Linked DNA regions of Homo sapiens: regions 2 and 3 are each linked to region 1. Evidence: fine-mapped expression QTL. Tissue or cell type: whole blood. Region 1 holds a variant in brackets; each other region holds the start of a gene. All regions are shown on one strand. Distances are between the middles of the regions.

Region 1 (2,756 bases):
GAACTGGAAAGCAGTTGCTGGGCCAGAGTGAGGACTGCAAGAGGTTTATTGAGGGGTAAACCTGCAGAAGGCAAAGTGGGAGAAAGCAGGAGTGGGCAGGATGAGCCTTCAAACTTGGATGCTGCTCAGACGCTTATGAACGGGAAAAAGAGAGGAAGCAGCTTGGGTCGGGAGAGGCTCACGCTGTGATCCAGATCTAAGTCTTGGCCAACCCAGCAGGCAGCTCTGGAGCAAACTGCTCCTTAGAAGGCTCCTGGCTTCGGCCCCGGTGACCCCGGCCTCAGTCTAGTCGGGGCTGCCCAGAAGCCCGTGGCCTCGGCCCCAAGGCTGTCAGCTGCTGGACAGCACAGTCTCTCTCGTTTCTTTACAACTGAAGTTTGCTTTACATATAGTAAATATTCACCTTTTTCAAGTACAGTTTTGTGAGTTTTGACAAACTCATACAGGCCTGTGGTTCCCATCATCATCATGAAATAGAATTTTCCCTTCACCCCCCAGATCTTCTCTCACACCCCTTCGTAGTCACCCTGTCTTCCCAACCCCTCCCCTGGCAACTACTGATTTGTCTTTCCCCCGCCCCCCTTCACAGTTTTGTCTTTTCCAGAACGTCATAGAAGTAAAATCACAGGGTTTGTAGCCTTTTGTGTCTAGTTACCTTGGCTATTTGGGATTCTTCCTTGTTGCTGCCTGCATCAGTGATTCATTCCTTTTTAATGCTGAGTAGAATTCCATTGCGTGAAGGTACCACAGCTTCTCCACCCGTTCAGGACATCTGGGTTGTTTATCGTTTTTAGCTGCTAGGAGTAAAACCTCTATAAATGTTCACATACAGGTTTTTGTGTGCACATTGGTCTTTCCCTTGGATAAATATGCAAGAGTGAAATTGTTGGCTCAAAAGGCAAGTGAGCCATTTCACTTTGTCAGAAACTTCCGAAATGTTTTCCAAAATGCTCACAGCATTTTGCTTTCCCACCAGCAGAGCAGGAACATTCTGGTTGTCCTGTGTCCCCACCAGCACCTGGCACAGTGAAGGACCTGGTCTGCCTTCTGATATGTGTGGAGCATGCTTGTAACTCCCGTGGCCCTGACGACTAAGGATGTTAGCGTCCTTCCTCATGCTTACCTCCGCTCTGTATATCTTCTCTGGTGAAGTGTCAGTTCAAATCTTTTGCCTATTCTTTAAT[A/G]TTCTTTAATTGGTCTATTTCCTTACCAGTGAGTTTTTTTTTTTTTTTTTGCTTGTTTGTTTTTTGTTTGTTTGTTTTTTATTTTTTTGAGACGGAGTTTCGCTCTTGTTGCCCAGGCTGGAGCACAATGGCACGATCTCGGCTCACTGCAACCTCTGCCTGTTAGGTTCAAGCGATTCTCCTGCCTCAGCCTCCCGAGTAGCTGGAATTATAGGCATGCACCACCACGCCCAGTTAATTTTGTATTTTTAGTAGAGACGGGGTTTCTCCATGTTAGTCAGGCTGGTCTCAAACTCCCGACCTCAGGTGATCCACCCGCCTCGGCCTCCCAAAGTGCTGGGATTACAGGCGTGAGCCACTGTGCCTGGCCATTAGTGAGTTTTAAGAGTTCGTTCTGTGTTCTGGATACAAGTCCTTTATAAGATAGGTGTTACATCTTATATTGTGTCCGAGTTTGTGGCTTGTCTTTTCATTCTCTAGACAGGGTCTTTTGCAGGGCAGAAGTTTTAAATTTTGATGAAGTTCAATTTTTCCTTTTATGGGTCATGCTTTTTTGTGTTGTATCTAAGAAATCTTTGCCTAACCCAGAGATTTTCTCCTATGTTTTTCCTATATGTTTTGTAGTTTTAGGTCTTATATTTAGGTTGATGATCCAGTTTATGATTTACATTTGTGATCCGATATTTTTCTATGGTGCAAGGTACACAGCATAGAAAAAAAGACTTTTGGCTGGGCATGATGGCTTATGCCAGTAATCCCAGAACTTTGGGAGGCCAAGGCAGTCAGATCGCTTGAGGTCAGGAGTTCAAGACCAGCCTGGTCAACATGGGGAAACCCCATCTCTACTAAAAATACAAAACTTAGTTGAGCATGGTGGCATGCGCCTATAATCCCATCTACTCGGGATGCTGTGGCAGGAGAATCGCTTGAACGCAGGAGGCAAAGTTTGCAGAGAGCCGAGATCACACCACTGCACTCCAACCTGGGCGACAGAGTGAGACTGTCTCAAAAAAAAAAAAAAAGACTTTTCTGTCTTTCCTTCCTTGCTTCTTTCTCATCTTTTCTCCTTCCTTCCTTTCTTTTTCTCCTTCCTTCCTTTCTTTTTCTCCTTCCTTCCTTTCTTTTTCTCCTTCCTTCCTTTCTTTTTCTCCTTCCTTCCTTTCTTTTTCTCCTTCCTTCCTTTCTTTTTCTCCTTCTCTCTTTGTTTGTTTTGCATGTTGATACTCTATTATTCCAGTCCTATTTGTCAAAAAGACTATTTTTTCTCTGTTGACTTACCTTTGCACCCCTGTCTAAAATCAACTGACCATCCATGTATGGGGCTGTTTCTGGATTCTCTATTATCTTCAATTCCCCTCTCTGTCTATTCTTTCACCAGTGCTACACTGTCTTGATTTCTATAGGAAGCGGTGCAATCAGATAGCATGTGCCCTCCAATTTTGTTATTCTTTTTCAAACTTGGCTATTCTAGGTAATTTACCTTTCCATATATAGTACATTTTAAGATCAGCCTGTCAGTTAGTACCAAAAAAAAAAAAACTGCCTGCATCAGATTCTTTCTTAAAGAGACAC
Region 2 (2,628 bases), 180 kb before region 1:
TGAGCTGGGAAGATGAAGAGAGATAATGCATGACAACTGCCGGGCGCAGACTAAGAGCACCCTAAGTGCTACCTAAATATTCCGTAAAGAGAAAAGGGGGAAACAACCTTACATCAAAAGATTACCACACTGTGACAGTGCAAAGACAAGCACTTTTTCGCTTACTGCATGTACCATTTCTGCTTCATCCCAAGACCAGATGCAACCTTTCTTCTAAAATCTCTGCAGGGTACGTGTCTGACAGCTAACACAGCCCAGCAGCCTACTTCGCGCTGACCTGGGCTTTAGGACTGGATGCAGGGGGCCCAAGGTCCGCCCTCCCGCAGCTAGGCAATCACCCAGCGAAATCTCCGCCCCTGGAGCGGCGCTTAGGCCGCCGCCAGCCCCCCTCCCGGCGCCCAGCCCGCGGCCCCCGACACACACGCGCGCACACACACACACACACACACACAAGCGCGCGCGCACGCACACACGCACGTACCGGCTGCTCCGCAGGGACGTAGAGAGCCGCAGGCCCAAGGAGGGGCCGCCCCCGCCGAGCCCGCCCCTCCGCCCCAGCGCGGCCTGTCACCGCGGCCCCAGGTCGGGGGCTGCCGCAGGGCCCCCGGGGACCGGAGGGGCGCGCGAGGAGTCGGGCGCGGGCCTTGGGGCCAGGCCCGTCCCTCTTTCACATGAAGCCCGGGCCGGGCGGGGTGGCGGGCGCGTGAATCCTCGCAGCCGGCCGGGTCCTCCTGGCGCTCCTCGGCACTTCTAGCCGCTGCAACCCCGAGGCCCGCGGGAACTGGGCAGGAAAGGAGGAAGCCGCGGGCCCGCGTCGCTAGAGACCGGAGAAGAGGCGGGAGTGGCGACTCTGCGGACAGGGGCGCCGAGCGTCCTGGTCGTTGTTTTCGTCGCCGCCGCGGGCCGTGCAACCCCCGAACGCTGCGCCCAGCGGCCGCGGCACCCTCGTCAGGCGCCGCCGCTGAGGGCAGGCAGCCCGGCAGCCACTACACACGGACCCGTGACGTCGGGCGTAGCGCGGCGCACGTCACGGCCGCTCGCTCGTGCGCGCGCACCCCTCCGCCCGGCGGTAGCGGAACCCGCCGCGGGCGCGCGCCCGGCCCAGGGGAGTGGGTCGGCGCCTGCGCAGAGGCCCGCCACGCCCACACACAGGCCACCGCCCCCACCGGCCGGACGGCGCGGGGATTCCCAGTCCTGGCTCCGCCCCGGCCTCGGCCCCGCCCCCGCCCCTGCCCCGGGGCAGCCTGTGCTGTTCCGTGTGCGCGGCGCATACGCACCTGGGTTGTCTCGAGCCTGCGGTAGTGGCCAGATCCCAGACATCCGAGTAGATCCCGTGAAAAGGTCTCCCACGTGGGCTGTGGACAGGGCCCAAGGGTAGCAGAGCTAGCAGAGGCAGTGACGGACTGTGTGGCAGGTCATTTGCAAGGAGAAAAGCCGTCTGCCTCTTAATTTGTGGCTCAAGTTTCAGAATTTTTTTCCTGAGGGACTTTAGAAATTACTTCAGGCTTGCCACCTAACCTTAAACCACCCCCTTGGAGACTGGCTAAGTGTTATTTGTGTTTTCTGTTTAGTTCTTATCACCATCGATACTTGGTTATGACTGGTTGTGTACATTGGTTAGCCCAGCAAGTATTACTTCTCCAGCTTAACAGATGTGGAAACTTAAGCCCAGAGACATGAGTTGACACCCCACCCCCAAAGCTAGAGTCTAAAACCCTTTCTTTCGCTCCTCATCTCCCACAGGATAAAATGCAAATTAATCAGACTAGTGGTGAGGCCCTCCGTGGTGTGACTAACCTGCATCCCGACGTTTTCACCCTACTTTGATCCAGAAAGCACCTTTCCGCCCCATCTCTTCTCCTTTCCTTAAATACCCCTTACAACTTCCTGTACCATTCTTCCCTGTTCAGCTTCTTCTTGGTTTCTTCGTACATTCTGGATCCACCCCTTTCATGCATATTCCAGACCACATTTCCACTGGAGCAGTTGAAATGAGAGAGATGGGAATGGGACTCACCCGAACCAGAGGTAAGGAGCTACCCAACTTGGGCTCTGAGGGTCAAGGGAGCTGGCACTTGTGGGGCAGAGACTGAGGGAGAAACTGTTGTGTAATGTCAAAATATCTCTGGGTTTCTTCCAGGAATTTTTATTACAGACCCATTAACAGAGGTGTCAAAGTCACAGGAACAAGGATGTGCACCTCAGAAACACAGAGGTCAGTGGAAAATCAGTTTGCTTCTATTTGTTTAAAAAATGGGGGACTTATGCATAAATCTAAGACCTTCTTGAATCTAACATTCTAAGACCTGTATGCCACAGAAAGGAGGGTCTCAGAACGCCGGAGGATAGTATTTAAATCTTAAATATCTATATTGTTCTCCACAGTTACTGGGTCACCACATAGCAGGCATTCAATAAAAACGTGTTTGTTTACTAAGTAATCTAGAGATAAATTTTTTCCCCTCATAGTGCTGCTCATTTCTCCACTCCCTTCCCTCACTTACCACCCCGGGGACTTCATTCACCTCTGGGTTCCTCAGAAACATCCCGTGGGTATAGTTATAGTAGCTATTCTTTCTTTTTCGCCATTCTCCTTTTATATTGGTGACTTTTCCTCTTGCTTAGATA
Region 3 (2,628 bases), 36 kb before region 1:
AGACATGTCCCAGGTGTATGCTCCTTTCACACTCAACACAGAACACTCTCTTGACCAGGTGTCCAAGCAGTTCTCCAGCAGACTCCGTCTGGATGTCCTATAATTCAATTCAATCAGACACTGTCAACCTGGAGTCATAGATCCCACAGGTTAAGGGCTCAGTCCCACAAAACTGCCCCACTTCAAATGCAGTCTCAAGTCCTAGGTTGCCACCTATACTTCTGACCAATTGGCTATAAATCGGGGTTCCCATGCCCCACACCTGAGGTTGGATTTGCTAGCATAGCTCATGGAACTCAGGACGGCACTCATATTGACCAGTTCGTGGGAAAAGATTTTACAAAGGATTACAGATGAGCAGCCGAATAAACACGCACAGGTGAGTTGTGTGGGAAGGTCATGGAGCTTCCATGCCCTCTCCCGCATGCCACCCCCCAGGGACCTCAGATGTGTGGAAGCTTGTCAAATCTTGTTCAAGAGTTTTACCTTCCCAGAGGTCAGTAGGCGGGGCTGAAAGTTCCAACCCTCTATTCACTAGGTCTTTCTGGTGACTGACCCCATGCTGAGGCTAGGTAGGGCCCCCACATGGTCACCTCCTCAGCATAACTTCAGGTGTTATCAAACGGACTCATTATGAGATGATCACTTGGGAAATTTTTTGTTTGTTTGTTTGTTTGAGACGGAGTCTCGCTCTGTCACCCAGGCTGGAGTGCAGTGGCCCGATCTTGGCTCACTGCAAGCTCCACCTCCCCGGTTCACGCCATTCTCCTTCCTCAACCTCCAGCTGGGACTACAGGCGCCCGCCACCACGCCCAGCTAATTTTTTTGTGTGTGTGTTTTTAGTAGAGATGGGGTTTCACCGTGTTAGCCAGGATGGTCTTGATCTCCTGACCTTGTGATCCGCCTGCCTCGGCCTCCCAAAATGCTGGGATTACAGGCGTGAGCCACCATGCCCGACGATCACTTTGGAAATTCTAAGGGTTTTAGGAGTTCTGTGACACCAACCGGGAACAAGGACCAAATATACTGTATTTTATATTATACTACCACCCTCAATTAGAGCTTGGGGTGCTTGGGGGCAGAGCTCCTGCCATGCAGCACCTGGGAAGATGCTGAGCCCCCGGATGGTCAGCTGACTGTCACCATGGGATCTGGCTGGTGGCCAGAGCAGGTGCACAGACTGCAAACCCTGGTGGCCTCCGGGCAGCATGCATCGCTGCTCTGCAGAAGGGGCCTGGGTTAAAGAGCAGGTATCATGAGGCTCTGCCAGCTGGGGCTGAGGGAGGCGTGTGGGAGTGGAAGTGCCTGGAGCCCAGGGACAAAGTCCTGTAATAAATTACGTGGGCCCAGAGTGCTCCCAGTCATTTCCTCTTGGAGCCCTACCTCTTCTTCCTCTGTCCCTTACTCCCTGACACACCCGGAGTCCCAACATTGCCTCCTTTCCTGGCTCTTTCAGGGTGCCCAGGGTGGAGGGGAAGGGGAGTCAGCCAGACCCCCATCCTGACAAGGTAAGGGCGTGCCGGGGGCGTGTCTGCCAGCGGGGAGTAGGGGGTCACCTCTCTGAAGAGGGTCGCTGGGCAGGAGGCAGGTCCCCTGGAAATAAGATGGAACAGGTCTGAGGGATAGAGAGTGGAGAAGCCCTTCAGGAGCCTGGAAACCAGAAACCGCAGCAGGGGACTCAGTCCATCGGGCTGAAGGGCAGCACCTGGGGGGCTGAGGAGGAGGAGGAGGGGGAGAAGCTGTCTAGCCCTCTGCTGTAGAAGGGCAAACTCCCTGCAGGAGGGGAACGGCAGGTGCCAAGGCTGCTCCCACCCTGAAGCCTCCTCACAGCTAGAGGGCCTCACTGTGGAATCATGGGACATCATGGATAGCCTGGGTCCCATGATGAGCCCCTGCCAGATGTCAGCTGTGCCGTGTGTGACATCCCACTGCGTCCTCGCAACACAGTGGTGGAATTGCCTCCATTTTATGGACACAGAGACTGAGGACCATGGAAGCGAAGGTGCCCACGGGAAGAAGCAGAGCCGGATTCGACTCCAAAGCCCAGGCTTATCCGCCTTACCCATGTACCTTGGGCAATTGGCTTTAGTCACCTCTGGAAGGCTGGGACCCTAGGGAGAGGCAGGACAGGTCTGGGGTGTGGTGGGGGGGGGGGTGGGGGAAGAGGTGGCTGAGGAGAGGGACCGCACCGGGGCTCACATGGGCTGTCCCCCTTGAGCTGTCCAGGTGGTGTGTGTCCCATCCCCATTTCACAGAGGACGAAACTTGAGACACAGAGATTGTGAGAGCTGGCCCAGGTCAGACAGCTGGTGGGTGTGGGGCCCCCAACCCAGATCCCCCAAATTCTCCATGACGAGGCCTCCCCTTCAGGCTCCACTTTGTAACCCTGGACTTGAATTTTGCTCTAATTTATCAGAACCCTGCACTTTGTTTAGGATTTTAGTTCAGAGATTCACACACACCCTCAGTGAATCATTGTTAGGAACCACTCAGCTCATCAGCCCACCCCATCTCCCTGGACCTGCTGGGGGCCCTACGTCTGTCCTCAGATGCCACCTCTAAGAGAATCCTCCCCAGGCGGCTGTCTTGGGGCCTGCTGCATCCACAGCTCTAGCACGGGGCTCTGTG

What was found. PIP is the estimated chance that this variant, and not a neighbour inherited with it, causes the effect.
Region 2: MAP3K2 starts here. The variant in region 1 is fine-mapped to the expression of MAP3K2 in whole blood (TOPMed, PIP above 0.99).
Region 3: it holds the start of MYO7B, and the variant in region 1 is fine-mapped to the expression of MYO7B in whole blood (TOPMed, PIP above 0.99).

Annotation. Positions count from the first base shown.
Region 1 is chr2:127,570,226-127,572,981 of GRCh38, forward strand. All of the region lies in intron 6 of MYO7B (myosin VIIB), which reads left to right. It overlaps LOC105373609 (a long non-coding RNA gene), which reads right to left and starts at 737. Exons shown (of 3, transcript NR_132317.1): 1 at 656-737. The variant A/G (reference allele first, on the strand shown) is at 1,185.
Region 2 is chr2:127,386,971-127,389,598 of GRCh38, forward strand. It overlaps MAP3K2 (mitogen-activated protein kinase kinase kinase 2), which reads right to left and starts at 1,005. Exons shown (of 17, transcript NM_001371910.2): 1 at 482-1,005. MAP3K2-DT (MAP3K2 divergent transcript) reads left to right here and starts at 468. Exons shown (of 4, transcript NR_187129.1): 1 at 468-582; 2 at 1,911-2,028; 3 at 2,141-2,215. RefSeq lists a silencer at 425-1,294.
Region 3 is chr2:127,534,324-127,536,951 of GRCh38, forward strand. MYO7B (myosin VIIB) reads left to right here and starts at 1,360. Exons shown (of 48, transcript NM_001393586.1): 1 at 1,360-1,508. RefSeq lists an enhancer at 1,392-2,242.